Linked DNA regions of Homo sapiens. The protein of the gene in region 1 interacts with the protein of each later gene in a pairwise test. Each region holds a gene or a part of one and is shown on either strand. Other genes may lie near its edges.

What was found.
Region 2: the proteins of PDE4DIP (region 1) and MIF4GD interact in binary tests that used the Homo sapiens proteins (3 or more experiments, as listed by UniProt).
Region 3: the proteins of PDE4DIP (region 1) and AEN interact in binary tests that used the Homo sapiens proteins (3 or more experiments, as listed by UniProt).
Region 4: the proteins of PDE4DIP (region 1) and ZBTB4 interact in binary tests that used the Homo sapiens proteins (3 or more experiments, as listed by UniProt).

What each region holds. Positions count from the first base shown.
Region 1 is NC_000001.11:148,840,447-148,847,441, forward strand, and holds the start of PDE4DIP (myomegalin), read left to right. Parts: upstream 1-3,981; 5' UTR 3,982-4,328; coding exon 4,329-4,348; intron 4,349-6,995. UniProt on the Homo sapiens protein: Functions as an anchor sequestering components of the cAMP-dependent pathway to Golgi and/or centrosomes.
Region 2 is NC_000017.11:75,268,220-75,275,795, reverse strand, and holds the start of MIF4GD (MIF4G domain-containing protein), read left to right. Parts: upstream 1-4,564; 5' UTR 4,565-4,652; exon of another isoform or gene 4,653-4,899; intron 4,900-5,073; exon of another isoform or gene 5,074-5,229; intron 5,230-5,550; 5' UTR 5,551-5,600; coding exon 5,601-5,682; intron 5,683-6,326; coding exon of another isoform or gene 6,327-6,449; intron 6,450-7,576. Other genes in the region: SLC25A19 (mitochondrial thiamine pyrophosphate carrier), read left to right, coding at 2,157-2,345. UniProt on the Homo sapiens protein: Functions in replication-dependent translation of histone mRNAs which differ from other eukaryotic mRNAs in that they do not end with a poly-A tail but a stem-loop. May participate in circularizing those mRNAs specifically enhancing their translation.
Region 3 is NC_000015.10:88,624,332-88,631,351, forward strand, and holds part of AEN (apoptosis-enhancing nuclease), read left to right. Parts: intron 1-1,814; 5' UTR 1,815-1,878; coding exon 1,879-2,418; intron 2,419-4,894; coding exon 4,895-5,095; intron 5,096-5,723; coding exon of another isoform or gene 5,724-5,726; coding exon 5,727-5,963; 3' UTR 5,964-7,020. UniProt on the Homo sapiens protein: Exonuclease with activity against single- and double-stranded DNA and RNA. Mediates p53-induced apoptosis.
Region 4 is NC_000017.11:7,476,622-7,484,336, reverse strand, and holds the start of ZBTB4 (zinc finger and BTB domain-containing protein 4), read left to right. Parts: upstream 1-4,705; 5' UTR 4,706-4,881; intron 4,882-4,904; exon of another isoform or gene 4,905-5,450; intron 5,451-7,715. Other genes in the region: SLC35G6 (solute carrier family 35 member G6), read right to left, coding at 1,336-2,349, 2,812-2,820. UniProt on the Homo sapiens protein: Transcriptional repressor with bimodal DNA-binding specificity. Represses transcription in a methyl-CpG-dependent manner.

The DNA.
Region 1 (6,995 bases):
CCGTGTAGTTGGGACTATAGGCGCCCGCCACCTCGCCCGGCTAATTTTTTGTATTTTTAGTAGAGACGGGGTTTCACCGTGTTAGCCAGGATGGTCTCGATCTGCTGACCTCGTGATCCGCCCGCCTCGGCCTCCCAAAGTGCTGGGATTACAGGCGTGAGCCACCGCGCCCGGCCGGTTATTTGAGTTCTAAGCCAGAAAACTGAGAGCAGACACACACATAACGATACTTGGTTGCAAAATGGAAATAAAAAGCAATGTGTTAGGATAGGCTAGATTATGCTCCAGTAATAAATAATCTCCAAATCTCAGTAACTTAATACAACAAAAATGAATTTCTTGCTCATTCTACATGTTCAATTAGGGTTAGCAGGAAGGCTCTGACCATCACAGTAACTCAGGGACTTAGGTTGATGAAAGCTTCATCTTATTGATCTTCAAGGATCAATAAAACAGCGGAAACTGAAAAGGGCCAATTATGTACTAGCTCTTAAAAATGTCTGCGTTCTTCCCAGAAGTGACCACATGAGACTTCCTCTCACGTTTCAGCCAACGAAACAAGTTACATTTCACTGTTCAAAAGTCATAGCTAAGTTAAAATGGGATGAGGAAGAATAAAGTTACCATGTATCTACAAGGAGAAAAGCTTAACAAAAAGCAAGAAAGCAGCACATACAGTGACTGGTGGATTGCATTATTGTTCCACAAATATTACTCTCCCCTCCTGCACTCTGTGGGCAGACTGTACTTTTCTGCACCAATGACTTTGGACTTGGCCATGTTACTTACTTTGGTGAACGGAAAATGGCAGAAGCGAGACTGTGCCAGTTCTGAGCAGAGACCAGTCATCATGAGTCTCTGCCAACTCTCTTGCACTCCTGCACTCTGCCATGAAAATGACAGACTTAAACCAATCCATACCTAAACTATAGATCCTTGAGGGAGAAATGGATGTGTGTTGTATAATACTGAGATTGGGGAGTTCTTTGTTGAGCAGCATTGTTTCAGCAAAAAGATGACTAATACAGTGACTCAACACAAGGATTTCATGAGACTGGCTACTACACATATGGTTTCCAAGAAAGGATATGAAATAAGACCTTACTAGCTAGTATTCTAAGAAACGTAAAGCAAAATGAGATGGTGTTACATTATTAGTATACTAGCTAGATATAGAACTAAAATATAACTATCCAATTATTTACAAATTAAATAAGAAAAAAAATAAAAGGAGAATTTCTAGTGCTTTTGAGGCTAAGATAATAAAATTAGAAAGTCCTTTTATCCCAGGAAAATCGCCTTTAGTCCATTCCTGCTGCTATAGCAAAATAGCTTAGACTGGGTAATTTGTAAATAATAGAAATTTATTTCTCACAGTTCTGAAGGCTGGACCAAGATCAAGGTGCTGGCAGATTCAGTGTCTGGAAGAGCTTGCTCTCTGCTCCCAAGATGGCTCCTTGTTGCCACAGATGCTGTGTCCTCACATGGCTGGAGGGACAGAGGACAAAAGGGACCAGAGCAATCCTTTCAACCTCTTTTTTAAGAGCACTAATCCCATTCATGAGAGTGGAGTGTTCATGCCTTATCACTTCCTAAGACATATTCCTAAAAGGCCCCACCCTGTAGTACTATAACACTCGGTGTTAAGTACCAATGTATGAATTTTGAAGGCATACATACATTCAACCATAGCATAATTCAAAAAAGGAGAATGATAAAGGCAGAAAGCTCTTCATTAAGGCATTATTTATAACAGTCTAATATCAGAAACAGCATAACTATGCAATAGTAGAATATTTTAAGTAATCTATGGTCCTACTAATATTATAAAATATTGTACACTCATTAGAATAATAACTATGAACTTTCCCTAAAAACATGGACAAATATTTACTAAGTGAAAGAAGGAGAATATAAACATATACCTAAGCTGTAATCGTAATTATGTAAATAGATATTTAATATATATAGATAATGACTAAAGGGAATTTGGAGAAATTTAAACATTTGTGCTGTAGCAGTGGTTATATGGGTGAATATTTTTCTTCTGAAATCTAACGCAAAAAAATTGTTCTTTTGACAATAAGTATAATTTTTAAAACAACAAGGAAATTTCTCTTCTCAAGAATATACCCATGTGTGTAAGAAAGAGTTGGTGTTTGGATTAAAAGATGCATTTTTTAAAGAGTGGGAAAAAAATGCAACACATTTTTAATATTGAAGATCCCTGGGTATTCTGAGTAATCTATATAACTTTCTGTATTTTTCAAATGTTTTTACAATGAATGTGCTATAAACTTTTGAAAAAAGTTATTTTAAAAATACATGAACGTATTTTCTAGCGTCACTTCTGAGACCCCACAGCTCACCTAGTTAGTGCTATCATTTCTTGAATCCAGTGAGCTGCCTGTAGACAGAGTTCCTCTCCACAACTCGGTAGCCCATAATTTGATTTGAGACAAAGCTAAATATAGCCCCAACTTTGGTATGAAGGATGGGAATCTGACTCTCCCTGCCTTTTCTTCCCCCCCATCAGAGGCAACAGGATATTCTTTTCAAGACAGGTGGCCTGTGAGCCTTGTCTAAGATCAAACTGGACCTTGAAATTTTTCCTGGTAACATTTTGAGCTCTGGAGCAGTGTGGTCCTACCAATAAATCAAGTGTTGGAGGAGTCTAGACTAGGGGCTTTTTAGACAGTTCTGCTAAACCTTCAAATGTTTTGTTATCCTCCCCTCCCCACCCCTACTTTGTACTAGTATGTAGGGGAACCAATCCAAGAGATAACAGACAGATGACAGGTTCCCCCAAGAACACAGACTCCCCACAGTCTCACCAATACCCAGGCATGCCAGGTTCTTCCTGAGTTAAATGCCTAGGAGGCCTGAAAGAATAAATTCATCCTGGAGAAGTCTTGTGGGTCGTAGCTTTAGAAATTCAGGGAACATATCTCTGGGGCCACCCAATGGAGAACACAGCCTGTATCAGAACCTTAGCAGAGACTTTGGGCCTTTTGGGGTCTCAAATTTATCATCTCTGAAACAAGTACAACGAAATTAACATTGCCACATGTGGGCACTATAAAGCCTTTTTCAGATAAAAAAAAAGGTCAGTGATAGTGCTAATAATAACAGTGATTATGTCATTTAATAAAACGGTCTTATTTGAAAGCTAAAAAGGAGCTTCAGGGTGGCAAGCACTCTAATTATAGTATGTCTGCCTTGTTTAAATCTTGATACATAAGTACATGGTACAGGGCCTGAGGCAATGCCATCTCCAAAGAGGCCTTTTCCATGATCTTAAAACAGTCACAAGGGAGTGTCGAGGTCCTGATGGCTACTGTCTTGAGGCTTTTCTAGTGTTCTGGGAGTCAGGAAGCTTCTCCCTCCTTGAAGCTATTGGTAGAGCCCAGTTGCTGGCGAAACTGAAAAACGAGGAGGTAGAATACCCTAAAACAGGAGATGTCTGGGATACAGGCAGCTAATAGGGCTGTAAGGTTTTGTTGGGATGCTTCCCTTCCTGATGAAGGGTCCTGTCCCTGGATTAATGGTGAAACTGGCATGTCACATCTCTAGGAAGACAACATCGTGTTCCATGACCACGTAGGGTATACATCTGCATTCAGCCGGGATTGCTCCTAAACCTTCCTAGACTCCATCTCTGGCTCTGGGGTTACCTGTGGGTGGGGCGATGCAGACACACAAGAAAACCTCCTCTACAAATTCTTCCTGTAGTTGGTTGATTGTATTCTAAGACCTTCGTTGGGATGGGCGAGGGACGGGGCTTGGTACCGCGTCCTCTAAGCTCTCTGCCCTCTGCCGTCATCATTCATCTGAGCCAGCGAGAGAGGGGTCGGGGAGACGCGAGGGTGGTTCAGGGGGCGTGTAACCTGGGCCGATTCTGCCCCAGCACACTGGTTGTCGGGAGCCCCGCCTCCGCTCGCGGTTGACAGCTCAGCTGGTGCCGAGCAACTCGTGCCAGCCAGTCGTGTCTCAGCCTGGAGAGTGCGCGCACCGCGGCCCGGGCAGCCGCTGGCTCCAGCTCACGAAACAGCCCCGGGCGCCGCGCCGCTCTGAGTCCAGCCTCCTACTGAGAACAGTCCCTCCCTTGTGCGGGTCGCACGGCTAGCCGCAGGTTCGGCCACGTCAAATCCATTTTCTAAAAAAGCAGGGAGCAGAGCTCTCTCTTCGCCGCCGACGCAGAAAGGAGCTGGGGAGGAAAAAGCTGCTGCCTTTTGCGCTGGAGATTCGTGGGCAAGGCTTCTCATTTTCCCAGGCTGCTTCCCCTCCCGGGTGAGGAGCGTCCTGAGACTAAGGAAAGAGCCTGGAAAATGGAGCAGACCTGGACGAGGTAGGTGGGCTGTTTCCTTCTCGCCGCGCTCCAGACTTGGTGGTCCTCCTCCCTCCCCTCCCCCAGCGCCCTTAGGGAGAGAGAGGTCGCCCCTCACCACCAGGGTCCCGTGACAGCTTCCCTTTTCTGTAGCCTCGCCCTGCCTGGTTCCCAGCCCACCTCTCTTGGTCATTTTCACATGTTCTGTTTTACGGGGTTTCCCTTGCTTAATGACTCTCCCCTCCACCGAGTCCTGATGTTAAAAATACCCAGGGAGGCCGCCTGGAACTTTCTGTAGAAATGGTTCTCTGTCGTTTCCTTGTTCGTGTGGCTAGAGGGATTCCAGTAGGTCTTCTTGAGAGATATGTTTGATGTCAGATGCTTTGAACAATATCAGGTTTATTCTCACCCTGCCACGTTTTCCTTCTCAGCCTCATCTGTCACTACTCACACAAAGGCAAAGGGACTGAGTGAGCAGAGCCCAGCAGCACTCATCTCCACAACCTCCAGTTGGAGCCCACTTGGGGGAGGAATGGAGAAGGAAAGAGATCAGGGCACCACACTGCTCAGGCTTTATTGAGGCCAGGCAACAGTTGGCTTTTAGGTCAGATTTTGGAGATGGCCTGTGAAACTGCGTTTTCTTCCAGTCCTTCCCCCAGACACACTTTAAAATGAAGCCCCATTCAAGGAAAGGGTAAGGATAAGAGACCATGTATTGAGACAAAGACTTCGTTTCTGTTTTTTAGTGGGTGGGAGGGTAGGGAGACTATTCCAGCGGTGTCTCTATAACAGATACGCTTCCATCTGTGGGATTTAGCTTTGGAGAATTGGGGTGGGGCCAAATGAGCGCTCTGACTCCTGAGAGAGTGAAGACGGTACAAACACAGAAGGTAAATTTGGGGCTTATGCAAAAGACTTGGGTGCTTTTAGTTGATTGCTAAGCTCAACAGGAGTGAATGGTATAATGTGAATATTAAAGAAGGAGCAAATTGAAGCTTAGGGTTTGTTGACAGAAGAAGTAGGCTGTCTAGATTCTGTCTAGATCAAAAGTGATGATTTTACTTTTGGCTCCTTTCTGCTCCTCTTGGGCCTCTCCGAGAGGGCTGTGCTTAGTTCTGGGCATCATTAGATAAAATAAGTACAATCAAGAGACAGGAGGGAACTCAAAGCCATGCCTTGAGGGATGGCCAAAGGAAGGACCTGGGACTCCTGAGTCCGGAGAAATGACGACTGGGAGTGGGGAGGATGTGGTAGCTTCCTTCAAATTTCCGAAGAGCTATTGGTGGTAGAGGGATTGAATCACATTAGAATCTCTTAGGAGGACAGAACAACCGATGCAAGCGAGTTGTTGGGAGGCGAGTTATGGCTCAGTGTAAAGAAAAAGCTTTCTGGCCAGGTGCAGTGGCTCATGCCTGTAATCCCAGCACTTTGGGAGGCTGAGGCAGGCGGATCACCTGAGGTCGGGAGTTCGAGACCAGCCTGACCAACATGGAGAAACCCCATCTCTACTAAAATACAAAATTAGCCGGGCGTGGTCGCACGTGCCTGTAATCCCAGCTACTCCGGAGGCTGAGGCAGGAGAATCGCTTGAACCCGGGAGGAGAAGTTTGTGGTGAGCCGAGATCAAGCCATTGCACTCCAGCCTGGGCAACAAAAGCGAAACTCCGCCTCAAAAAAAAAAAAAAAAAAAAAAAAAAAAAAGACCAGGCGAGGTGGCTCACGCCTGTAATTGCAGTACTTTGGGAGGCTGAGGGGGGCGGATTACGAGGTCAGGAGATTGAGACCATCCTGGCTAACACAGTGAAGCCCCGTCTCTACTAAAAACACAAAAAAAATTAGCCGGGCGTGGTGGCGGGCGCCTGTAGTACCAGCTACTTGGGAGGCTGAGGTAGGAGAATGGCGTGAACCCGGGAAGCGGAGCTTGCAGTGAGCCGAGATCGCGCCACTGCACTCCAGCCTGGGCGACAGAGCGAGACTCCGTCTCAAAAAAAAATTAAAAAAAAGCTTTCTAACAAGTTAGCTGCCTGGGCAGTATGGGCAGTAAAGAGATTGTTGACCCTGGAGTTACTCAGGCAAAGGCTAGATGACCACTTGATGGTGATGGGAGTGAGTGTATCAGGGCCTTTTGCTCTCTGCCAGTGTTTTTCACACTTGAAGAAAAAAGTATTATTTATTAAGTTTTAAAAATTTTATATTTACATGTAACAATTTCAGACAAATTCAGAAATGATTTGGAAAAATCGCAAATTATATATTTACAGTCCAATTAATTTGACAAACTGAGTATACTCATGGGATGGGCATTCAGATAGAGAAAGGGAACATTACCAGCATCCCTGAAGCCCTCCTGATGACTTCAAGGATAATCATTATCCTAATTTTTAACACCATAGAATAATTTTGCCTAGTTTTGAACTTTATGTAAATGAAATTATACACCATGTACTCTTTCGTACGTGGCTCCTTTCACTCAATCTTTTGCTTTTGGAGTTCTATACTGTTATATGGTACTGTAGTCCATTTATTCTTGCTTTTAAATAGGCTTCTATAGTGTATAAATATATCAAATTTATTTGTCCATTCTATTCTTAATAGGCACTTGGGCAATTTCCAGTTTGGAGCTATTATAAACAGTGTTGCTATGAACATTTCTGTACAGGTCTTTTGA
Region 2 (7,576 bases), on another chromosome or scaffold:
ACCATATGAGACAGGGTTTCACCACATTGGCCAAGGTGGTCTTGAACTCCTGACCTCAGTTGATCCGTCCGCCTCAGCCTCTCAAAGTGCTGGGATTACAGGCATGAGCCGCCACACCTGGGCCTAAGTTGTATTTTATGTGCACTAGGAGAGTTGGCCATTAAGAGAAGCCCCGTGCTAAGTCATGTTGTAGTCTCAGTAGTCACTCCTCAGTTGCTCAGATTTTTACATACTCCCTTTCTTTTGGTCAGTGGGTAGGGTTAGGGGTAGGCTAAGGATGGGCAATTCCAGGCCTTTCCCCTCTGTATCCTGGGAACCTGAGATGCGGAGGTGTGAAAAAATATGCCTGACAATGTCAGAGGAGAGGGATGGCATGGAATGGGAGGCAAGGTAGGGAGAGAGCATTCCTTCCTTGGGGGAAGAGAAAGAGCTGGGTTTATAGTTATAATGCATTTTCTTTGTAGGAAACTTTAGAAAATTTAAGATAGATGAAAGAAAGACCAAGCCAGCTGCAGTGGATCACGCCTGTGATCCCAGCACTTTGGGAGGCCAAAATGGGAAAATCAGTTGAGGCCAGGAGCTTGAAACCAGCCTGGTCAACATAGCAAGACCCCGTCTCTACAAAATAAAAATTAAAAAATTAGCTGGGCATGGTGGTGTGTGCCTGTAGTTCCAGCTACTAGAGAGGCTGAGGCAGGAGAATTGCTTAAGCCCAGGAGTTCGAGGCTGCAGTGAGCTATGATCACACTACTGCACACCATCTTGGGCGACAGAGTGAGACTCTGTCTCAAAAAAAAAAAAAAAAAAAAAAAAAAAAAAAAAGACCAAAATCCCTTGTAATTTCACTACCACAGATAACCACATGGAACCTTTCAGTGTAGTTTTATTTCTTTTCATAAATACACATGTACATTTTAACAAAAATACGGATACACTGTATACAAGGTTTGTAACCTCCCTTTTCCACTTACCAACTTGTCCTGAAGGGAGAGTTTGTTTTCTTTTCTTTCTTTCTTTTTTTAAATGGGATATCGCTCTGTTGCCTGGGCTGGTCTCGAACTCCTGGGCTCAAGCGATCCTCCCCTCTCAGCCTCCCAAGTAGCTGGGACTGCAGGCATGCACCACTGCACCCAGCATGAAGGGACAGTTTGAATTTGGACAGGGAGCCGATGGTGAGAGCCCAGGATGGCAGAGGGAGGCCTTACTGCTAACAAAGACTAGTGTAATCCAGTTTGGCCAGAGGTGGGAAGGGCACGTGGGAGGACCAGTGGAGGTCAGATCAGGGAGGGAAATCAAGGCCAAATGGTGCAGTGCCTTAAACGGCAGATCTTGGGGTTTGGACTTGATTTCTCATGATGTCGTCACTAGGAGTTACTGCAGCTTTTGGAGGGAAGCCAGGCTTGAGGAGGGTTGTGCCTGGGGATGAATGTCTGGCAGCAGTGTGTGAGGTCAGCTGGAGAGGGTGAGGCTGGAGGCAGGGAGGCCCGGCTGAGAGCTACTGAGGGCCAGGTTCAGATCTGCTGCCCAAGGGGGATCAGGTGGGATGGGATGAAGGGTCAGAGATGCCTCTGGGAAGAGGTTCTGGAGCCATTGCTGGATCCTTTGGAGCCACAGGCAGCCGTTCTTCCTGGGCAGGAAGGAGCGCTGTCCAGCTTCTGATTTCTAGGCCTGTCATCTGTTCAGTCTTAACCCAATTACAGTAGAAAGAATGAAATTAATTTATTTGCTATTTTGAGCTGGGCATGGTTGTCCATGCCTGTAATCCCAGCACATTGGGAGGCTGAAGCAGGTGGATCACCTGAGGTCAGGAGTTCAAGACCAGCCTGGCCAACATGGCGAAACTGCATCTCTACTAAAAATACAAAAAATTAGCCAGGCGTGGTGTTGTGTGCCTGTAATCCCAGCTACTCAGGAGGCTGAGGCAGGAGAATCACTTGAACCTGGGAGGCAGAGGCTGCAGTGAGCCAAGATTGTGCCACTGCATTCCAGCCTGGGCAACAGAGTGAGACTCTGCCTCAACGAAAAAATAAAATAATTTGCTATTTTGCATTCATTTCTTTGTCCAGCAAGTACTTCTTAAGATCTGTGATGTGCCAGGGGCTGTGTTGATGGGAGCAGAGCGGGCATCCATATTTTCATCCCTTTCCTCTCCCCAGGTACGGAGATACAAGGGCCTCATGGACTGTGCCAAGCAGGTGCTGCAAAAGGAAGGCGCCCTGGGCTTCTTCAAGGGCCTGTCCCCCAGCTTGCTGAAGGCTGCCCTCTCCACAGGCTTCATGTTCTTCTCGTATGAATTCTTCTGTAATGTCTTCCACTGCATGAACAGGACAGCCAGCCAGCGCTGAGTGCAGGAAGGACCCCAGGTCTTCCCTGGAGGCAGCCTCCTGAAGGAAGGAAGATTCAGTCTCCACTGAGAGGTGCCGTCTGGCCCTTCCCTGCAGGCCAGCTGCCCCAAGCGGGGTAGCAGCCTTGAACCCACCCAGCTGGGACACCACCAGAAGGTCCAGGGCTCTCCCCATGAGAGAATCAGAGGGAATGCAGGACGTGGTCTATGGTGAGCCAACGACACAGTGAGAAGGAGCAGGAAGTTGCTGTTTCTCCTCTGACCAGCCCACACTCCAAAGGAAACAGACGCCATCCTACACCTATCAGCCCTGCCTGCCAGGAGAACAGAACACACTCCTGGTCTGGATGGGGCTGCTGCTTGAGTGCAGAGGGCTGCGGTAGGCCCTTTGCAGGAGTCAGGTCCCTACACTTGGCCTGTTTTTCCAACCTATTTAATAGACATTAAAGCTAAACACACATTCCTTATCTTACTCCATCTCCCCTGGCACATCTGCCTACTCACAAAGTATGAGGGAAAGGACTCCTGCCTTCCTCAAATCCCATGTTCTCCATAGCGGCAGCCCTTGGCAGCTCTGCTTCTAGTGCTGGGGGAGACTCCAGGCTGAGCCAGTCACTTTCTGGGCCCCGTGCCCAGACCTTCGTGTCTGCAGACACACCACCACCCAGGCTGTCCTCTCCCAGGACCGGGCTGGTCATGGCCGTGGGGCTCCATGGAAAGCAGATCCCAGCGCCCGTGCAGGAAGTGGATGGGCCATGCTGTGGGCAGGCGTGGGTGAAGGTGCAGCCTCTCCCCAGTCTACCTCACTGACTCCTCTTTCACCCAGAGCTGGGTCAGCCTTGCTGGGTGAGGAGCTATCAGCAGGACAGGTGGCATCAGCGCCCACTGCCTGCTCCTCAGTGCAGAGCATGCTGCGGGTGCATCCTCCCCTGTAGCCCCAGAAGGGCCGTGGCTCTGAAGCAGCCCACTGATGGGGATGGCAGAAGGAAGGGGCGGGCACGTAGCCTGGTGAGGGCACAGCTGGTGCCTGGGGTGTTACCAGAGCAGAGGGACACCCACAGGCGGAGAGGCAGAGGAGAAACCAGTTCCAGGCTGAGGGGAGGTCTCCAGAACATGACCTCCACCCTTCCCTCCATCTGCCCGGCCTGTAGGGTTGCTCCGACCTGGGAAGCCCTCCATTCTGCCTCCCTCTCCAGCCTTGGAAAGAGGCACCCACTGGGAGCCGGCGCTGGCCCTGGCCCTGGCGTGTGGGTCCTGGGCTCCTCCTCGCACCATCCTTCCCTGCCTCTGGTCTGGGATTTTGGGGTCTGTCTGGGCCCTGAATGCTGGGGCTTCCTGGCTCTGGGCTGCTGGTTCCCAAGGTCCAGGCTGCGGCGGGGGCCACGAGGATGCAGCTGCCTGAATGCATTTTTTATGAAATTCCGTTAAAGTTTCTTCTCTTCATCTTTCCTGCCCATTGGTTTCTTTTGCTGCAGCTGAGCGTTCTCTTCCTCCTCCGTTTTCGGTGACCACTTTGGCGGTTCTTTTAAAAGGAGGCGAGAACGCGGGCAGCGCCGGCAGCGCTCCTCCCGGTCGCGCGGCAGGAGCGGCGGCAGTTCTTCCCCCACTTCTAGGTGCCCTCCTGTCACCCAGGGCAGACGCCGGGCGGTGGGGTCCGCGCCACTTCAGGGGCATTCGCAACAACCGACGGCCGCGAGTTGCCAATGGGGCCCCTTTCTCGGGGCTGCCCCTATGACCTGAAACTCGCTTCGCCCATGTCCTCCTTGGAGCGGGAGAGGGTTGTGGCTGGCCCCGGCCCTGCAGCCCCTGCCTTCTCTACCTGGGTTGGGGGAGCGGGGAAAGTGGTGCGACCAGGGCTGATGCTGTTCCTCCTGCCACCAGGTCCCCACCACGCGCTCTGCAGGCTCTTCCCACGCCGCGCAGCCCAGCGGTGTCTCCCGGCCCAGTGCACCTGAGCTCCGGGGAGGGCTGGGTGCGGGGCCACGCGCAAGATCGAGGTGCCGGCGGGTCCGGCGTGGGCCCGGACACGGCCCAGGCGCACCGGGTGAAGGGGTGACGAGCCAAGCGAGTTCCGCTTGCGGCTGGGTGGCAGCGTCGCAGGGTCCCACGCAGGCGGCGCGGCTTCCGGGGCGGCCTGGAGGCCAGGGCAGTGCCCCGGGGGCCCGGCAGGTGGCGCGGGCGAGCCGACCCTTCCCCGGCGCCGCGCGAGGAGATGAGCTCACGGCGGGCCCCGCAGCGCCGGACGCTGGTTGCGCGCTCCCAGGCGCCGAGCGGCCCCGGGCACGCGCGCGCGCCACCGGCCCGGCAGGTGGGTCCCGGCTCCCACGCCGCCTCTCCCGCCCGCGGGACCCTGGGCCGTGGGCTCCGCAGCCCGCCCTGTGCCTCCGGGAGGGGCGTTCCGGGCGCGGGGGGAACGGCCGAGGGCTGGAGACCCTAAAGGCGCCTCCTACGGCCAGAGGGGAGCCTCCGGCGGGAGCCACCTCTCCGGGGCGCATCATCCTGCCCCCCAGTAAGAGGAAGGCTCCAGAATGGAGCTCAGGAATTAGGAGTCTCGAGTGCGTAGGGCCGGGTTACTGCCACTCGGGAGCCGATCCGACCAGCCTGTCCCAGGGAGAAGCTGGCACGGGTCTGGGGAGTTCAGGCTGCTCCCGGCAGGGGCGGCGGACAGGGCGCCTGCGTCCCCACCCACGCAGGCCGGCCCCATCCGGGGGATGCAGCGGCGGGTGTTGAGACCGAAGGACTCGGCGAAAGCCAGAAAGAGAGGGTTGGGGAGAGGGGCTCGGAGACCTGCTGGGGACAGAGTCGCACCGCTTGGAGTTCCCAGCCTGGCCCTCACCCGGCATCTTCCTGGGCCAGCAACGTCAGGCCGGTTTATTTAAGCAACTGTAACGTCCGCCCGCACACACCCTGCCCCAGTCTACTCCTGCCTCCTGCTGGGACTGGAGGGTGGGCGCTTTCCTGCTTCAGCTTCTCGCTCTTGTGTAATCCCACAAGCGAGGGATTTCTAAACTGAGCAGCAGGTGCCTGGCTGATGCCCAGTCCCCACCAGAAGCCAAGCCTGGTGGGCCTTCAGCCAACCACCGCACGCCACGGACCGCCCAGGAGTCCCTGTCCCGAGCGCGCCGTCAGCCCCGTCCAGGGCCTGCAGGACGGAACCCGCCCTGCGCTCCACACCTGAGGCCGCTCCCTTCGCCTCTTCTCCTCAGGTGCTGTCCTTATTCCCAGCCCAGTCAAGAGCTACCGGGGCTGGCTAGTCATGGGGGAGCCCAGTAGAGAGGAGTATAAAATCCAGTCCTTTGATGCAGAGACCCAGCAGCTGCTGAAGACAGCACTCAAAGGTGAGCACGGGACCCCTCCTGAGCTGGGGTCAGGAGCTACAGAGAAGGGCCCCTGTGGGCAGCACCAGAGGCTGAGCCTGGTGAATGCCTCCACCCCTCCCCTCATTCTCTGACGATAGGAGTCGGCAACGTAATTCTTGAACTGGAAGACAAGCTACATTGAGGCCATTATTTTGGAGTATGAATCACAGTCACCTCTCAGACTGTAAAGACTGTTTTAAAAGTTTAACCATAGGGCTAGGCGCAGTGGCTCATGTCTGTAGTTCCAGCACTTTGGAAAGCCAAGGTGGGCAGATTGCTTGAGTCCAGGAGTTCAAGACCAGTCCCGGAAACATGGTGTAAACCCCATCTCTACAAAAAAAAAAAAAAAAAGAAAGAAAAGAAAAATTAGCCGGGCATAGTGGCAGGCACCTGTGGTCCCAGCTACTTAAGATGCTGAGGTGGGAGGATTGATTGAGCCTGGGAGGGTGAGGGTGCCATGAGCCATGATCCTGCCACTGCACTCCAGCCTGGCTACAGAGCGAGACCCTGTCTCAAAAAAAAAAAAAAAAAAAAAAAAAAAAAAGTTTAACCATAAAAAAAAGAACACGGCTCCTGCCCTTGAAGCGCTTACATTTGAATTGCTGGTTTCTGTGCTGCCATAGCCCCGTCTCTTGAATGCACAGTTGCCTGCTTTGAGACAGAAGATGGAGAATATTCCGTTTGCCAGAGGAGCTATAGTAATTGCTCTCGCCTGATGCCTTCCCGCTGTAACACGCAGTACAGAGGTTTGTCTTCAACTAATAATTAGCAACACCCATCATGTGTCAAGCCGAGCCTGTTGGGAGGCCCTATGTGGCCCTCTCTTGTTGGGGGTTTGCATGTGTGTAGTATAAGAACACTTTTTCTTGTGAAATTGCTGTTGGAGGCATGTCCTGGTCAGTATTCCTTCCTCAACCTAGTGCCAGGAAAAGATGTGTTTCCTGAGAAACTACATTCTTACTTTGATTGGTCCCTACTAGCCACATAACCCTCCCCATTTTCTCTGACTGGGCAACCAGAAGACAAGACAGCTAAAGCTGTTTGTATGGTTACTGTCCTCTGTACGGTTTCTTTTCCCTTTTTTTTTTTTGAGACAGTTTCGCTCTTCTTGCCCAAGCTGGAGTGCAATGGCACGATCTTGGCTCACTGCAACCTCCGCCTCCCAGGTTCAAGCAATTTTCCTGCCTCAGCCTCCCAAGTAGCTGGGGTTACAGGGGCCCGCCACCGTGCCCAGCTTATTTTTTGTATTTTTGTAGAGACGGGGTTTCATCATGTTGGCCAGGCTGGTCTTGACCTCCTGATCCTGACCTCAGGTGATCCACCCGCCTCAGCCTCTCAAAGTGCTGGGATTACAGGCATGAGCCACCACACCAGGCCCTCTGTATGATTTCTTTTATTTTTTTCTTTTTTTTTTTTTTTTTGAGACGGAGTCTTGCTTTGTCGCCCAGGCTGGAGTGCAATAGCATGATCTCGGCTCACTGCAACCTCCGCCTCCCAGGTCCAAGCGATTCTCCTGCCCTAGCCTCCCAAGTAGCTTGGATGACATGAGATGACGCACGAGCCACCACACCTGGCTAATTTTTGTATTTTTGGTAGAGATGGGGTTTCACCATGTTAGCCAGGCTGGTCTCAAACTCCTGACCCCAGGTGATCCAACCACCTCGGTCTCCCAAAGCGTTGGGATTACAGGCATGAGCCACTGCGCCCGGCCATGATTTCTTATAAGTACCATGCGCTAACCAATTGCACCACTGGAGCCACTGTCCTCTGTATGATTTCTGATCTCTTTCACTTCAAGCATATGAGTGCTCTACTGTAAATATCTCAAATTCTTAGAAGCGGGTGGACACAAATGTGATAAAGCAGCAGCTCT
Region 3 (7,020 bases), on another chromosome or scaffold:
GGGAAGGGAGGCTGTGGCTTGGGAAAGGGCAGTGAGTCCAGGCGGAGGCTGCTCTGGCCTGAGAAGAGCTGGCTGCCAACCACGGGCTAGAGTCTAACCTCTCTGGGAGAAGGAGCAGTGGTTATTGAGCCCCTACTGTTCAGAATACAGGAAGACCCCAGCATACATTGTGTCGTTTCCTCTTCACACAGTAGAGGGGGTGGTAGGATCATTTTACATGCCTGAAAACTGAAACTTAGCAGTTTAGGTCATTTACAAAGAGCTGAGTTAGGCCGAATATGGTGGCCCACGCCTGTAATCCCAGCACTTTCGGAGGCCAAGGCAGGTGGATCACCTGAGGTCAGGAGTTTGAGACCAGCCTGTCCAACATGGCAAAACGCCACCTCTATTAAAAATACAAAAATTAGCCAGGCGTGGTGGTGCATGCCTGTAATCCAGCTACACAGGAGGCTGAGGCAGGAGAATCGCTTGAAGCCGGGAGGCGGAGGTTGCAGTGAGCCGAGATCACGGCACTGCACTCTAGCCTGGGTAACGAGAACGAAACTCCGCCTCAAAAAATGCCAAGTTAAACCCTGCTCTGCCTGACTTCAAAGCCCTAGTTTGTTTGATCTGTTAAAAATGTACTGACTGACTTGGCATAACAAATGAGACAGGCTTTCCAAGTTATGGCCTCAGCTGTTGGGAAGATGCTGGGTTTTGCAAACTCACATGAACATCAGACATTTCCTGTAGCAGCAATGAACGACAGCACCTCTTATCCTAGCATTCAGTGACGAGGGCTTAAAGTCCGCTGGGTGGGAGCCCATCACAGAAATCTGCAAGCACTTCAGATCAGGACTTTTAAATGTTTCTAGATGCTGTGGCGATTAATGAATTACAACGTCAGGTAAAGAAATTACACTTAAAGGCTGGACACGGTGGCTCATACTTATAATCCCAGTACTTTGGGAGGCCGAAGTGGGCGGATCACTTGAGCCCAGTTTAAGACCAGCAGGGCAACATGATGAAACCCCATCTCTACTAAAAATACAAAAAAAGTAGCCAGGTGTGGTTGTGTGTACCTGTAGTCCCAGCTACCCAGGAGGCTGAGGTGGGAGGATCACTTGAGCCCTGCAGTGAGCTGTGATCACGCCACTGCACTTCAGCCTGGGTGACAGAGCAAGAACTTATCTCAAAATAAATAAATTAATTAAATAAATAAATTACAGTTGGTTATCATATTACAAAAAAATACAACTATTCAGTTACTGCGGGCTTCCTATGAAATTCTTTCTCCAGGTTGTGCTGAGGATCTGTGCCTTCATATTTCAAAAAAGTATTTCTTAAAAAAGGCTATACAGTTTCTATAACCTTTATTTTCCTATAACCATACCTCTGTCAAAGTCTGATGCTTCTTAGCTAAAAATCACAGCAGAAAAAAAGTCCACTGCTAACAATATTGGACTCAGCCATGGTTTGAGGTTGAGGGTGTGGATTCTGGGTTCCTACCAGCCTTTGGCTTTTACTAATGGGGCAAGTTTCTTCACCTCTGTGCCTCAGTTTCTTACCTGTAAAATGAAGATGATAATACTTTGTTCAGGTCATTGAGCAGACTGAGTGATTCCATGTAGTATTTACAACAGTGATTCACCTGTGTTTACAGTATGAATGCTTTTATTAGTGAAATGGGTCCTCAACTCAATCTGGGAGCCACGAGCTACGGTGCAGGGCTCTCGGGCATCCCCACCGTGGTGCACTGCAGGGAGGGAGGGAGGGTGGGTGGGCTGCCTGGCACACTCTCACCCAGCCCCTCTGCCTGTGTGTTCTCTCTTCAGGCTGCTGCCCCATTGGAAGATTACTCCCCAGGCTTCCCTTGCCCCAAGCAGTGAGCTGACTGGAATGGTACCCCGGGAGGCCCCTGAGTCTGCTCAGTGCCTGTGCCCTTCCCTCACCATCCCAAATGCCAAGGATGTGCTTCGGAAGAGGCACAAGAGAAGGAGCCGACAGCACCAGCGGTTCATGGCCCGGAAGGCCTTGCTGCAGGAGCAGGGGCTGCTGAGCATGCCTCCAGAACCAGGGTCCTCCCCACTGCCCACCCCTTTCGGGGCAGCGACAGCAACTGAAGCTGCCAGCAGTGGGAAGCAGTGTCTGAGGGCTGGATCTGGCAGTGCCCCATGCAGCAGAAGGCCTGCTCCCGGGAAAGCCTCAGGGCCCTTGCCCAGCAAGTGTGTGGCTATCGACTGTGAGATGGTGGGCACGGGACCCCGAGGGCGGGTAAGCGAGCTGGCCCGCTGTTCCATTGTGAGCTACCATGGCAATGTCCTCTATGACAAGTACATCAGGCCTGAGATGCCCATCGCTGACTACCGTACCCGCTGGAGTGGCATCACTCGGCAGCACATGCGCAAGGCTGTCCCCTTCCAGGTGGCCCAGAAAGAGGTAAGGGCAGGGATGGGGACTTGTTTGGGAGGTGTGGTGGGCTGGAAAGAGCCACCCTGGGTTTGAATCACCACTTTGCTTCACTGGGGGCAAGAAACCTTGGGAAAGTCACCTAACTGCTCCAAACAGTAGGTTCCTTCTCCATAGAACAGGGGAAATAAAAATAAAATCCTGACCTTGCCTCCAGATAAGGATTGCTGGCCTGTTGCACAGGACAATGTAGAAAGGCTACACCAACTGTAAGGTGATAAATAGCTTACATTTTAGAGTTTGCTTTCTGTTATAAAAGTTGTACGCATTGATATAAAATTTGTAAAGCCCACAGTGGCATCACGTTCAGGTATGGATGTTTTGGCATATTTCCTTATGTTAGTTTCTTAGTGCTTAGAAAAAATTAATTAGTGGTTGGGACCACACTGATGCACCAGGAATTCCCAAACATGCTTGACCTTAGAAACACCTAAGTCCTTTTTAACAATCTAGGATCCTTGTCCCCAGTTCCCTCCATAGAGTTCCTGATCCATTAGGCTTGGGGAGGGCTCTGACCCATGTTCCAAAAAATCATCACACTGTGTAGACTTGCACCATAAAGCCACAGGGCTTAAGGGGAAATGGAGAAAGGGAACAGTATTAAAAAGGCCATCAGTGACACCCCAAAAATAAGATAGAAACCTAATAAAAAGGTAGTCCAGTTTTACGCATCTTGTTTCTTTTTTTTTTTTTTTTTATTCCACACATCTTAAATGGTTAAGAAATGCACAATACACCAATAAGTATGGCACTTTACCTTGAAAAAGACCTGAACTTGCTTGTGGAAAGAGGAGTCAGAAAGGTTGCAGCTTGAGTTTCTGTGAAGTGGTTGAAGGAGAGTTCTTTGAAGTCAGACAGGAAGTGTGACACCAGCTGTGGATGGGTGTGGCTCATCACACAGGTGAACTAGGGTTGCTGGGAGATGTTTGGGCTGTGTGCATATTGTGTATGCCCTCTTGGCTTAGTTCAGTTGGATGCAGTTTTCTGCGTTCATTCAGTGTTTCTCAAGGATGAAATTATGCACAAGCAAAGGTGAAATTTGCATTGTTCTCAAAATGTGTCATACATCAATTGCATTGAGACAAATCTGCATTTTCTAAACAAGCCTTGTAACAGAACCACTTTTTAACACTTCTGGGTTATTCTTGGGATTAGGCAAGGTTGGGAAATACTGGTGTACACTATCTCGTGTCCTACTTTTTCACATAACATTGTGGCCCGAGCATTCCTTTGAAATGATCGGAGGTTATTTTATGTATCAAGCAGGCCAATCAGTAAGAGTAGCAACAAGAGGGGAGGTGTGTGGTGAACCCTCCAGCTCCTTGGTCCCTTCCATTGACCTGGTTGGTGGTGGTCCCAAGAGCAGGACCACTTTTTGTCTGCCCAGACTCCGAGCCACTGTGGGTTGTGCTTCATCTCTTTCCACTTCATGGCTGACTTGGGGGGAGGGGCAGTGTGGTGAGTGACCAGCATGGTGGCATGTCCCTACTATAAAGTCTCAATGCATCTTATCCATCTGCCATGAAAGCTGGGTTTGGGGATAAACATATGTTGCCAGCAGAGGTAGGCTGTGGAGGCCCGCAGCTGGTGATAAGGAGAGCCCAAGCCCAGCTAAGAGGGCTAGAGGGGGTTGCTGGCCCATGGCCCTGGGCGTGGCCTCCCTGGTGTATGAGGAGGGCCACCCAGCAGGGAAGGGAGGTACACATTGTGCAGGCAGCCAGAGCTGAGCAAGAGAGCAGGTTAAGAGGATGAGGAGGAGTTGGTACACAGCAGGGCAAGGGGGCAGAGTCCTGAAGACAGGGATTATGGCCCTTAATGCTCATAAGAGCTGCTGCTATGGTGTGTCTACCAGTGACAGGCACGGTTCTGTTGACTTCACCCAGCTGGTCTTTATTGATCACCTCCTGTGATAAGTAAATAATCAATAAATGTAATGCTTTCTACTACAGGAAAAAGATAGGCATTAAAAAAAAAGAATAAATGTGACGCTTTCCTTGGAGCATCACTAAGAAGTCCAACATGGTCCCTGCACTCACAGACCTTACAGTGCGGTGGGGGAGAGTTGGGTGGAGTGGGAGGCCTGGTGACGTCTTCCAGGCTGAGAGGAGAGCCAACACCAGCAATAGAGTTGCTTGTATCTGGTAACAGGAAGACTTCCATCCATGACCTCGTTTAGTCCTTAGAGCCACCCCACGGAATGCTGCTGGCAGTGTTTCCCTTTGACAGGTGCAGAAGACATAGGTATGCCCCTGGGTATAGACAGTAGAAGGGTCTGGGTTCAGACTTGGGGCAGCATGGTTGACTGTGGAGCTCGTGATCTCCCCACTCGGTGCTGCCTCCCCCCACAGGGATCCATGCATCTATTGGCCAGGGGTTCTCAGGGCGTGTCTCCTGCCAACCTGATGGGGTGTGGGGTGACCTCCCTGACTCCTCTTTCTGCTCACAGATCCTTAAGCTCCTGAAGGGCAAGGTGGTGGTGGGGCACGCGCTGCACAACGACTTCCAGGCGCTCAAGTATGTCCACCCTCGGAGCCAGACCCGGGATACGACCTATGTCCCAAACTTCCTCAGCGAGCCCGGCCTCCACACCCGGGCCCGGGTCTCTCTAAAGGACCTGGCCCTGCAGCTGCTGCACAAGAAGATCCAGGTGCGTGGTGGGAGAGTGGCTGGAAGGGAGGGAGGCCCGCCTGGCCTCCATGCCACCTGAGCCACAGACAAGGCTTTGGGCTGTGTCTCCAGCCTCCTTGTCATTCTCTTCCCTAGTCCAGGTCCAGGGACCTTGCTTAAATGGGTCTCCCTCCTGTACACGCAGCTCCAGGTGTTTCTCTCCATGATCCTTCTTCCCCAGTGTGTACTGCGATTCTCCCAGAACACATTCTCCTAGGCCGATCTCTTCCAGATCTGTCCCCTCCCTAACTCTTGGTTCTTGCATCCCTGAAGCATGGTCTCCCATCCCCTACTAGCAGACATAGAGCCTTAGATCAGGAGGAGCCAGTACCTCTTGCTCCTGTTGGGCTTCACATTTATTATTCATCTGATCTGCAAGCCTTTGAAGCAAGAGATTTTTAGCATGCCTTATATTTGAGGAAAACAGGCTTGGAGAAGCTGCATGGCTTATGGTGTACAGTTGAGGTTCCATCCCTTTTCTGTGAACCTCCATTCTGAGCATACGTATTCTTGGGCCTGCACAAAGAGCCCTGGGAAACTGGCCTTGCTTCTTGGGGTAACAGGCCTCTCACTAGGCCTGCAGGCAGTGATGTGTTGGCTCTCGTCAGTAGGTGGGCCAGCACGGGCACTCATCAGTAGAAGATGCCACGACAGCCATGGAGCTCTACCGGCTGGTGGAGGTGCAGTGGGAACAGCAGGAGGCCCGCAGCCTCTGGACCTGCCCCGAGGACAGAGAACCTGACAGCAGCACAGACATGGAACAGTACATGGAGGACCAGTACTGGCCCGATGACCTGGCCCACGGCAGCAGAGGAGGAGCCAGGGAGGCACAGGACAGAAGGAATTGAGAAGGGGGCGGGGCTCCCTGGCTGGGCTTCCGGTGTGGCCGGTAGGAAGTGGGGGCCAGGAGAGCAGCGGGCACTCCTTCCTGGGCAGGGTGGGGCAGGATGCAGTGAGCCAGCCCCAGGGCCAGAGGAGTAGGGGTCATCTGTTACCTTGACACCCTCTGCACACAGCATAGCCCTCTCTCTCTCCAGGGCTGTTGGTTCTTTCTTCTGACTCCTGTGGTTTTGCTAATGGCACTTTACAGACTCCATGGAGATGTCAGGTGGACCATCTTCTAGGGCCCAGCAGGAGTAGGGAATGTGCCAACAGACTGCCCAGGTTGCCGTGGCCTTCCCCACCCCCCAGATCTCCTGAGTCATCATGCTGTGCTAATGAAAGGGATCATATCATCCTCTCTGGGGATGGTGGGTGGGGGTGTCAATATCCTGGAGCTCCCTTACCCCAACTCAATGACTTGGGGGTAAAGTTCTCTTCCTTTTGTTGCCTACCTCTTCCTCCACTCATTTGGGTTCAGAATAAACATGTCCTGAAGTTAAAGAGGAGTTAAGTCCTAAAGGAGGCATTTCTTCCCCACCTCCCTGACCTGGAACTCTGGCTACAGCCATTGTAGGAACTCCGTGCCTGGCCTGTCAGCTCCCTGCTAGGCTACAGTGGAATAGCAGAGCCCACAGGCTTCTCGTGGGGAGTTGGCTCCTTAACATTTCTTGGCAACAGAAAGCCCCAGGCACAGCTCAGGGAGGAGGGAAGGCAGGTAAGCTTTGGACGAGAACTGGCATATTTATTTTGACCCAAATCAGGGATTTCCCCAGTCCACCCAGTACTGGGCTCTTAAGCAAAAGTCTGAGAAACAAGACAGTGGTTTGAATTCTGGGGCCTTTGTGTAGGATTGTGCCTGACCTTTATTTATTTATTAACAGCAGGGCCACTCGTCTAGGGCAGTGGAGTCTGCGTGTCTCCTGGGGCTGGGGCAGGGCATTGGCAGTTACGCAGTGGCCCTGAACCTGGTCTGGTGCCCCCGAACCTGGTCTGATGCCCCCTCAGCTCTTTGACAATCACTGT
Region 4 (7,715 bases), on another chromosome or scaffold:
GATTCGCCCTCGCGTCCCCGCCCCTTCCTTTCCCGCCCTCCCTTGCGCTACGGGGCCGCCTGCGCAGGCCCGCAAGGGGTGCGAGCCAGAGTCGTGGGTAAACCCCCCGCTCGCTGGTTGGGCGACCTTTTGAAGTGACAGGGAGAGAAGAATTTTTTTCTTTAATCCCACCGCCTCTCCTCGCTGCTCCCTTTTGCACTGAGGCTTAAGGTTTGAAGACTCGAGGGTAAAATTGGGCCGCTTTCATTCTAGTTTGGACAACGGTTTCATCTTCAGCAAAAGCCTCTCATTCGTAGCCCCCCCCAGCTGGAAAATGGTCTGCTCTGCGAATCGGTAATGGCGGCGGGGCGGGGCGGGTCCTCCCGGGGAAGGGCGGTTGCTCATGAATATGCAGTTCTCTTGCTGAATATGCATGAACAAACCAAGATGGCAGGACCAGTGGCTTGTCCGGAAGTAGCCGATGTTTGTCAAACGGCCCCCGGAGACGGGTGGGCATCTCCTGGCCTGTAATGCCGCGCTGTACCGAGCCATGATCCTAGATCCATGGCCTGAGCCTCTCGAAGAGACTTCAGCTGGGAGGCCTGCTCTGGAAGGAGGGTGGCCACTGTCCGGGAGAGATCACGGGACCGCGACAATCCGAGAAAAGCAGATTAGCCATGGGGCGGGCCACGAAAGTCCTGGGGGATTTGGGGTCAAGGCATCTGAACATTAGGAAATCCTCCACTTTGTAGAATATTTCAGGAATAAAATGGGGGGCGGGGATCCCAAGGGGTTCTCCAATGAGAACGGTCGTAGGACTTTCCACTCTCCCTCCAAAGCAGAGACGACACCACTGCAAGCCACATTCAGAGTAATCCTTGTTTGATGTCAATGTCACGTCACCACCCCAAGGGGGGGGCACAAGCACGAGGAAAGGAAACCTTTGCCGTGAGGGGAGGGGTGGGGAGGCACGCTCCCCTCCCCCACCGCAGCTGCTGGCTCTGTCTTTGCCGGAACACTCCAGCCCCAATGCTCTTCTCTTTGCTGCTGAGTGAAGTCCTCCCCGTGGCCCACGGCCTCCCTGCCTCAGCCGTTTGGATCTGCTCCTCAGACTTTACCCCTTAGTTATGCCCTGATTCCAGGACCCAGCCTGGTCTCCACATCCCTTGGTCCCAGGCTGGCCCCAGGTCTTCCAGGTAGTCCCTCTCCACCAAGTCCCCAAGTCACCCTTGACTCTGAGAGGTATCCCTCTCCCACACCAGTTCTTTTCCAGTCACTTCTCCTCCCATGTTTGTCTTCAGTCTTTGCCTCTATTTATCCCTGTCCCTCCCAACCCCCGGGCTCCCAAGTTCTATCTCACTCCTCCACCTTCCCTTCCCTCTCACAGCTGAGGTTCCAGGCTGTGATGATGGCAATGCTGCCCAGCACAACCCCTGCCCCCACGATGTCAGAAGGTGCCACAGTCTCATGGAGCATATAATACTGCAGTATAAGGGCCACCACCACCTCGGAATGCAGGACAGCGCACACCAGGGCAGGGTGGGCCTTGGTGACCGCATAGCTCACACATGTGAAGGAGACCAAGGCGAGGATCCCCACTGCCCCCACACAACTCCAACTCGGGAGATCACTGGGCAACACGGGGGGCTGCAGCACAAAGAGGCCTGGCACAGAGCCCAGCAGCCCCACCAAGCCAGATAGGAAGGCCACTGTTGGGAGGCAGGAGGGAAAGTGCAGAGAACGATAGACCAGAAGCCCCAGGGACAGCGCCAGTCCTCCCACGAAAGCCTGCCCATAGCCCAGGGCGGTGTAGACACCCGTGATCCCCTCCTGTAGTGTCCAGAGTCCAGGTCCCACAATGATGATTAGTCCTAGGATGCTGCCCAACAGTCCACACCAGTCGTAGCCACTGAGACCCTGGCTCTCAAGGCAGAGGGTGAGGACGGCGGAGCAGACGGTGGAAGAACCTTTGCGAACAGTGGCAGCGTTGCCAGCGGGCACCACCTGAACCGCACTGTAGGCACATCCAATGCTGAGGACGTTGAGCAGGGCATAGAAGTAGGCCCGGCCTCGGATGTCAGGAGGTCCCAGAAGGGGGTCGCCACGCAGTTTAAGTAGCAGGGCAATAGGGAGGTGGAAGAGGCATCGACAGATGAGCAGCTCCAGCGAGGGCAGGTTGGAAGCCTGGTAAGCCATATGAGAAAGGGGGCCCACGAAGCCAGCAGGCAGGCCCCCACCCAGCAGGGCCACCAGCAGGCCATTGGTGGCATCAGAGGGCTGGCAGCACTGGTGCCAGCGGAGGCTGGGTGGAGCGGAGGGCGGCGATGGGTGTGTGGAGTCAGGCGGGTTCAAGTAGGGGTGACTGCCAGCCTGTTAGGGAGAAAGGAGCTCAGGGTAGACAGCAGCCGCAGCCCAGGCGACCTGGGGCAGGGCAGATGCCAGGATGGGGTCTGGGACCCTGTGGGACTGTACAGTGTTGGGCTATCTTGCTGAGGAACTCTTCGGAGCTAGAAAGGGCCTAAAAGATGAGTGAGATGTTATAATGTGGGCCTGGAGCAGGAAGCAAGGAGTGAGCAGTCCTGGAGCATCGTTTCCCTGGGTAAGTTGTTCCTGGGAGGAGAAAAAGGACCCAGGATGCTCTCTCGGATTGAGGAAGGGGAGGAAGCCTCAGATGCTATGCATCTGTATGATGCCACAGGTTCCAGAGACATCTGGGTACACCATTATGAATTCTATTTGTGGGTATCTCTGAGACAGCTAAGTTTTAGGAAAGGAGGGGAAATGGAGCAACCAGGAGCTATAGGGAGGGAGTACTAGGCCCCTGGCCCCCACACTCACCATCTTTCCTTGGACTTTCTCCTCTCCTCCTGGCTCAGGGAGCCTGGGCCCCTCAGAGCTCCAGCCATTGTGACATGGTTGGAGTGGGGGTGGGGTTCTTCCCTGGAACTCTCCTGAGGTGGTAGCACGCCTATTTTCCCGCTGAGTCCAACTCTGCTTCTTTTCTTTCTTTCTTTCTTTTTTTGTTTGCGACGAAGTTTCCACTCTTGTTATCCAGGCTGGAGTGCAATGGTGTGATCTCATCTCACTGCAACCTCCACCTCCCAGATTCAAGCGATTCTCCTGCCTCAGCCTCCCAAGTAGCTGGGATTACAAGAATGTGCCACTACACCTGGCTAATTTTTTTTTTTTTTTTTGGGACGGAGTTTTGCTCTTCTTGCCCAGGCTGGAGTGCAGTGGTGCGTGCAATCTCGGCTCACCGCAACCTCCACCTCCTGGGTTCAAGCAATTCTCCTACCTCATCCTCCCAAGTACCTGGGATTACAGGCATGTGCCACCACACCCCGCTAATTTTTTATTTTTCGTAGAGATGGGGTTTCTCCATGTTGGCCATGCTGGTCTTGAACTCCTTACCTCAAGTGATCCACCCCACCACCCCCCGCCTCCCAAAGTGGTGGAATTACAGGCATGAGCCACCGTGCCCAGCCCAACTCTGCTTCTTTTCTATTTATGTCTCCATGACTCCAAAGTTTGTCTGATTCTTTTATTCTTTTTATGGCTAGCTCTGTGGCTTTACATTAATTTGTTTATTTATATCTTGCATGGTTTCAGAGAGGTTTTTTTGTTGTTGTTTTTTTTTTGAGACGGAGTCTGTCTCTGTCGCCCAGGCTGGAGTGCAGTGGCGAGATCTCGGCTCACTGCAAGCTCCGCCTCCCAGGTTCACGCCATTCTCCTGCCTCAGCCTCCCGAGTAGCTGGGACCACAGGCGCCCGCCACCACGCCCGGCTAATTTTTTTGTATTTTTAGTAGAGACAGGGTTTCACCGTGTTAGCCAGGATGGTCTCGATCTCCTGACCTCGTGATCCGCCCACCTCGGCCTCCCAAAGTGCTGGGATTACAGGCGTGAGCCACCGCGCCCAGCCTCAGAGAGGTTTTAAGGCAAGGAGCTGTGAACCCTGGCTCCTCCATCTCCTTAGTTTTTAATTTTCCAGCACCAGGGAGGAGTTCTTGGGATTGTCCCTGTGGAGTTTCAGGAATGTGTTTTTTCTGTGTGTGCTTCCACCTGGTGTTTTGTTGATGCTGTCCCCAGAGGCCGACACCAAGGCCTCTGCATTTATGTTCAAGTATACAGATGTGGATCTATCTGCTGGTGGGGACAAAGTACCCAGCCAGCTTCATGTGTTCATTTGCGCTGGTGGTCGTTCGTGTGTGCCCCGTATGCAGGGCCAGGGCCTTCTTTTTCCGCGGCCTGCTGAGCTTTCCTGCGCATTCCTGGAGAGGGTGTGTGTGTGTGTCCAGGGCTGGCCCTCTTTGAGTGTGCCGACCCTGGGTCTGTGAGTCCCACCGGGCCTGATTATGAGTCTGCCATGTCATGTCTGCACCCTGAGAGCCTGTGTGTTATGCTTTCAGGCAGTGTGCACCGCTGAGTGAAGGGCGTGCAGGAGGAAGGGCGGAGGGAGCCCTTTCCCTGGGGGTCGGTGGTCTTGCGCCCCTGCCGGGATGCTGCAGCCCGGCCCGCGCCCCGCTCGGTGTCCACCCGCCCGGTGGCCCAGCGCGGCGCAGTGTCATGCCGCGGGGGTCAGTCCTGGGGAAGGCCGTCGGGCGCTCGGAGCTTTGTGTCGGTGTCGGCTGCGCTGCGCCGGCCTCCTCTCGGCGGCGGCGGCGGCGGCGCTGGGGGGGGACTGTTTCCGGGGGTGGGGGTGGGGGTAGGACCGGGGCGGGGGGAGCCGATGATGTCAGCGGCGGCGGCGGCGGCGGCAGCGGGGCCGGGCCGGGGCCAGGCGCTGGGGGGGCCAGGGCCGGAGCTGGAGCCGGAGCCGGAGCTGGAGGCGGGCAAAACCGGAGCGGCCGGGGGCGGCCACGGTGATGAGCCGGGCCTGGCGGACGCGGCGCCATCGCAGTCAGGTGGGCCCTGGGGCGAACTGGGCAGGGCCAGGGCGGACCGGAGCCAACTGCCAGGCCCCCTCTCCGCTGCCCGGCGCTGCGGGAGCCCCGACCGCGCCCCGCGCCCAGACCGCTCTCCTTTGGGGTTGACCTGGGGGCGCAGGGGTCGGGGGCTGAGCCTGGCCCCGCCCCCGGGCGCGCACGACGCTGGGGGGCGACTAAGGGGGCCCTGGTATGGCGTCCGAGCGAGGGGCGGCCGTGGGACGCGATCGCCTGGGGCCGTGGAAGGGGAGGTGCTCACTCCCTCTTTGAAGGGTTAATTCTGCAGCCTAATGGCCCCCTCCCCCCGTGGGGCAGATTGGGGGTGGGGTGGGGCGGGTGTGAGCCCGGGCAAGCGCTGCAAGCTGCTGGGAGGGTGATGGCGTAGGAGCCAGGCAGAGAGGGGGAGGGGTGGGCCGCCGAGCGCCCCAGAGTTGGGGTGTGCGGGGTGCGCAGGGCGAGCTGGGGCCCCGGAACCGCCGCGCCGTCGGGGCAGGGTTGTGGCTGTGAGTCTTGGAGATCGTGTGTCTTGTGCTGTGTGGTGGGGCAAGGTAAACCTCTCCTGGGCACCACCGTTTGCTGGCAGCCAGGGGTCTGGGTAGGGCCCTCCCTGGGCCATGGAGATAGAAAGCCAGGAAGGGTGTCCAGTGTTGTGGGGCAGAGTTACAAGACGAGCCCTGTGGCTTTGGGTGACAGATGGGTATTCTGAGCAGGGCACAGCATGCTGGGTGCAGAGTTTGTTCGATGTGGGGCTGTATGTTTTCTACAGCATGTGTTTTCTCGCATGTGTGTCTTGTGCTGCACCTATGACCTGTTTATGAACTGTTTTCTGCAGAGCTGGCATGCTGTATGTGTTGCGGAGGGTGCCAGGATGCAGTGTATGTGCCCTTTTGGAGGGGGCGGTTGTGGGCCTTTGAGTCAGAAGGCGTCACGTCTGGGTCCCATTTCTGTGGCCCTGCTGAGGTGTGGTCCAGTGGTGAAGAGGGCGATGGATGGGTTTGCGTGTCTGTGATGAGCGCGTTGCATGGGGGCTGCGCGTCTAGAACTCAGATCCCAAAGATCATGAGAGGAGCGAGGAACCCCGGGGTATGTCTCAGGGGCCTGTGGGTCAGTTGGCACTGGTGTGAGGGGCTCGAGGTGGAATGCGCCAGTTGTGTTTATGGGATCATGGGCAGCCAAGCGAGGGGAAGGTTGTGTGTTTGCAACATTCTCCACAGGATTCTTTTGTGACGTTGTTTGTAGGAGCCTGTCTGGGCTGCTGAGCTGGGAGGCAAACTGGTCAGAAAACACATGTGGGGAGGGAGGTGGCGTGACAAGGGCAGTGTGGGCCTCAGACCCAAGAGGCCAGCCGCAAGCAGGCTGTGTGTGCGTGCCTGCCGTCTGTGTGCTTAAGTGGCGGTGGGGCTGCGGAGGGGATTTGGTATGAGGAAGGCGGGAGATAAATGCAGGGTAGCGCATGGAGGCCGGCGGGAGGCATGGGTGTTGTCAGATGGCCCAGCTAATCTTTGCAGGGTCTGTATGTTTGCCCCTCATGAGCCTGCCCAGCGTGTCAGGGTCACCCGGAGGAGAGGCTGGGCGGCCACAAGGGAAGTAAGCTTAGACAGAGAGGCTCCTTGGCCATGTTTATGTAAAGGCTGGGTGTGACTCTTGTCACTAAAATGGAAAAAAGAAACGTGAAGTTTTCAGCCTCCTCCTGCTTCACCCTCTCCCTCTCTCTGCCCCCCTTGTGGGTATCTCTGACGCACACTGGGCCCCACTCCTGCGACGGTGGAAGGGCCTCAGAACAGAATTCGCTCACTAGGCAGATTCCTCAGAACAGGTTTTCCTCACCTTTGGGGACTGGGCCCTTCTAGGGGTGTGTGTGCAAGTGCATTCCAAGCCTGCACACCACTGTCTACTGTGCCCGGCCCCACTGGAAGGATGTGTGTACGTGGGGGAAGGGAGGGTGCTGCGGACAGGCCCTCCGGCATGGGGGGCTGGGAAGGGGTGGCTGCCGTGGGAGCCTGCTCAACAGGTGCACAGTGACGGTCTGGTGAAGAGAAAGGAGCCATGGTCCAGGGCTGAGGAGCTCTGGCGTCTTTACCATTCCCTCACTGGCACTTGATCTGAAGGAAGCTCAGTTCCTCATCTGCAGAATGGGGCTGATTGTCTGCCCTGCGTATCTTCCAAAAGCACATGGGAAACGGACCCGGAAAGTGGCTATAGTCTGGGGGCTGTGCCTATGCCAGCCCCTGTCAGCCCTCCCCCAGGACTGGGAATTCCCTTCTTGGGGCTTCGCTGATAATAATGGCAGCACACACTTGCTTAGCACTGACCGTGCACCAGCCTGTCCTCAGGGCACTTATATGTGGCCACTCTGTCCTCAGAACAACACCCTGAAGTAGGCACTCTACCTCCCTTTTTCAAGTGAGGCAGCTGAGGTCCAGAGAAGTTAAGTAATCTGCCCCAAGTCACTTAGCTAGTAAGAGGTGAAGCTGTATTTGAACCCGGGCAATCAGGTTGAAGATCTTGTGCTCTTAACTACTGTACTCTGCTGCCTTCTGGAACATTCAGTGGATGGTCCTTTCTGTGCAACTCCCTCCAACACTCTTCTCCCCAGTTGCTGCAGAACTTAGCATTTGCAGCAGTCCATTTCAGAAGACCCGGATGCTCAGGGATCCCCAGCTGAGGGCATGAGAACCTGAGTCTCTGCTGCTGTGTAAGGTGGATGCTGGCCATAGGAGCACAAAAGGTTGATGAGTCAGAGGAAGGAATGATCGTTCTCATCCTGTGGATCAGGGAGGGCCAAGAAGGAGGTGGCCTTGGAGTCAGATCTT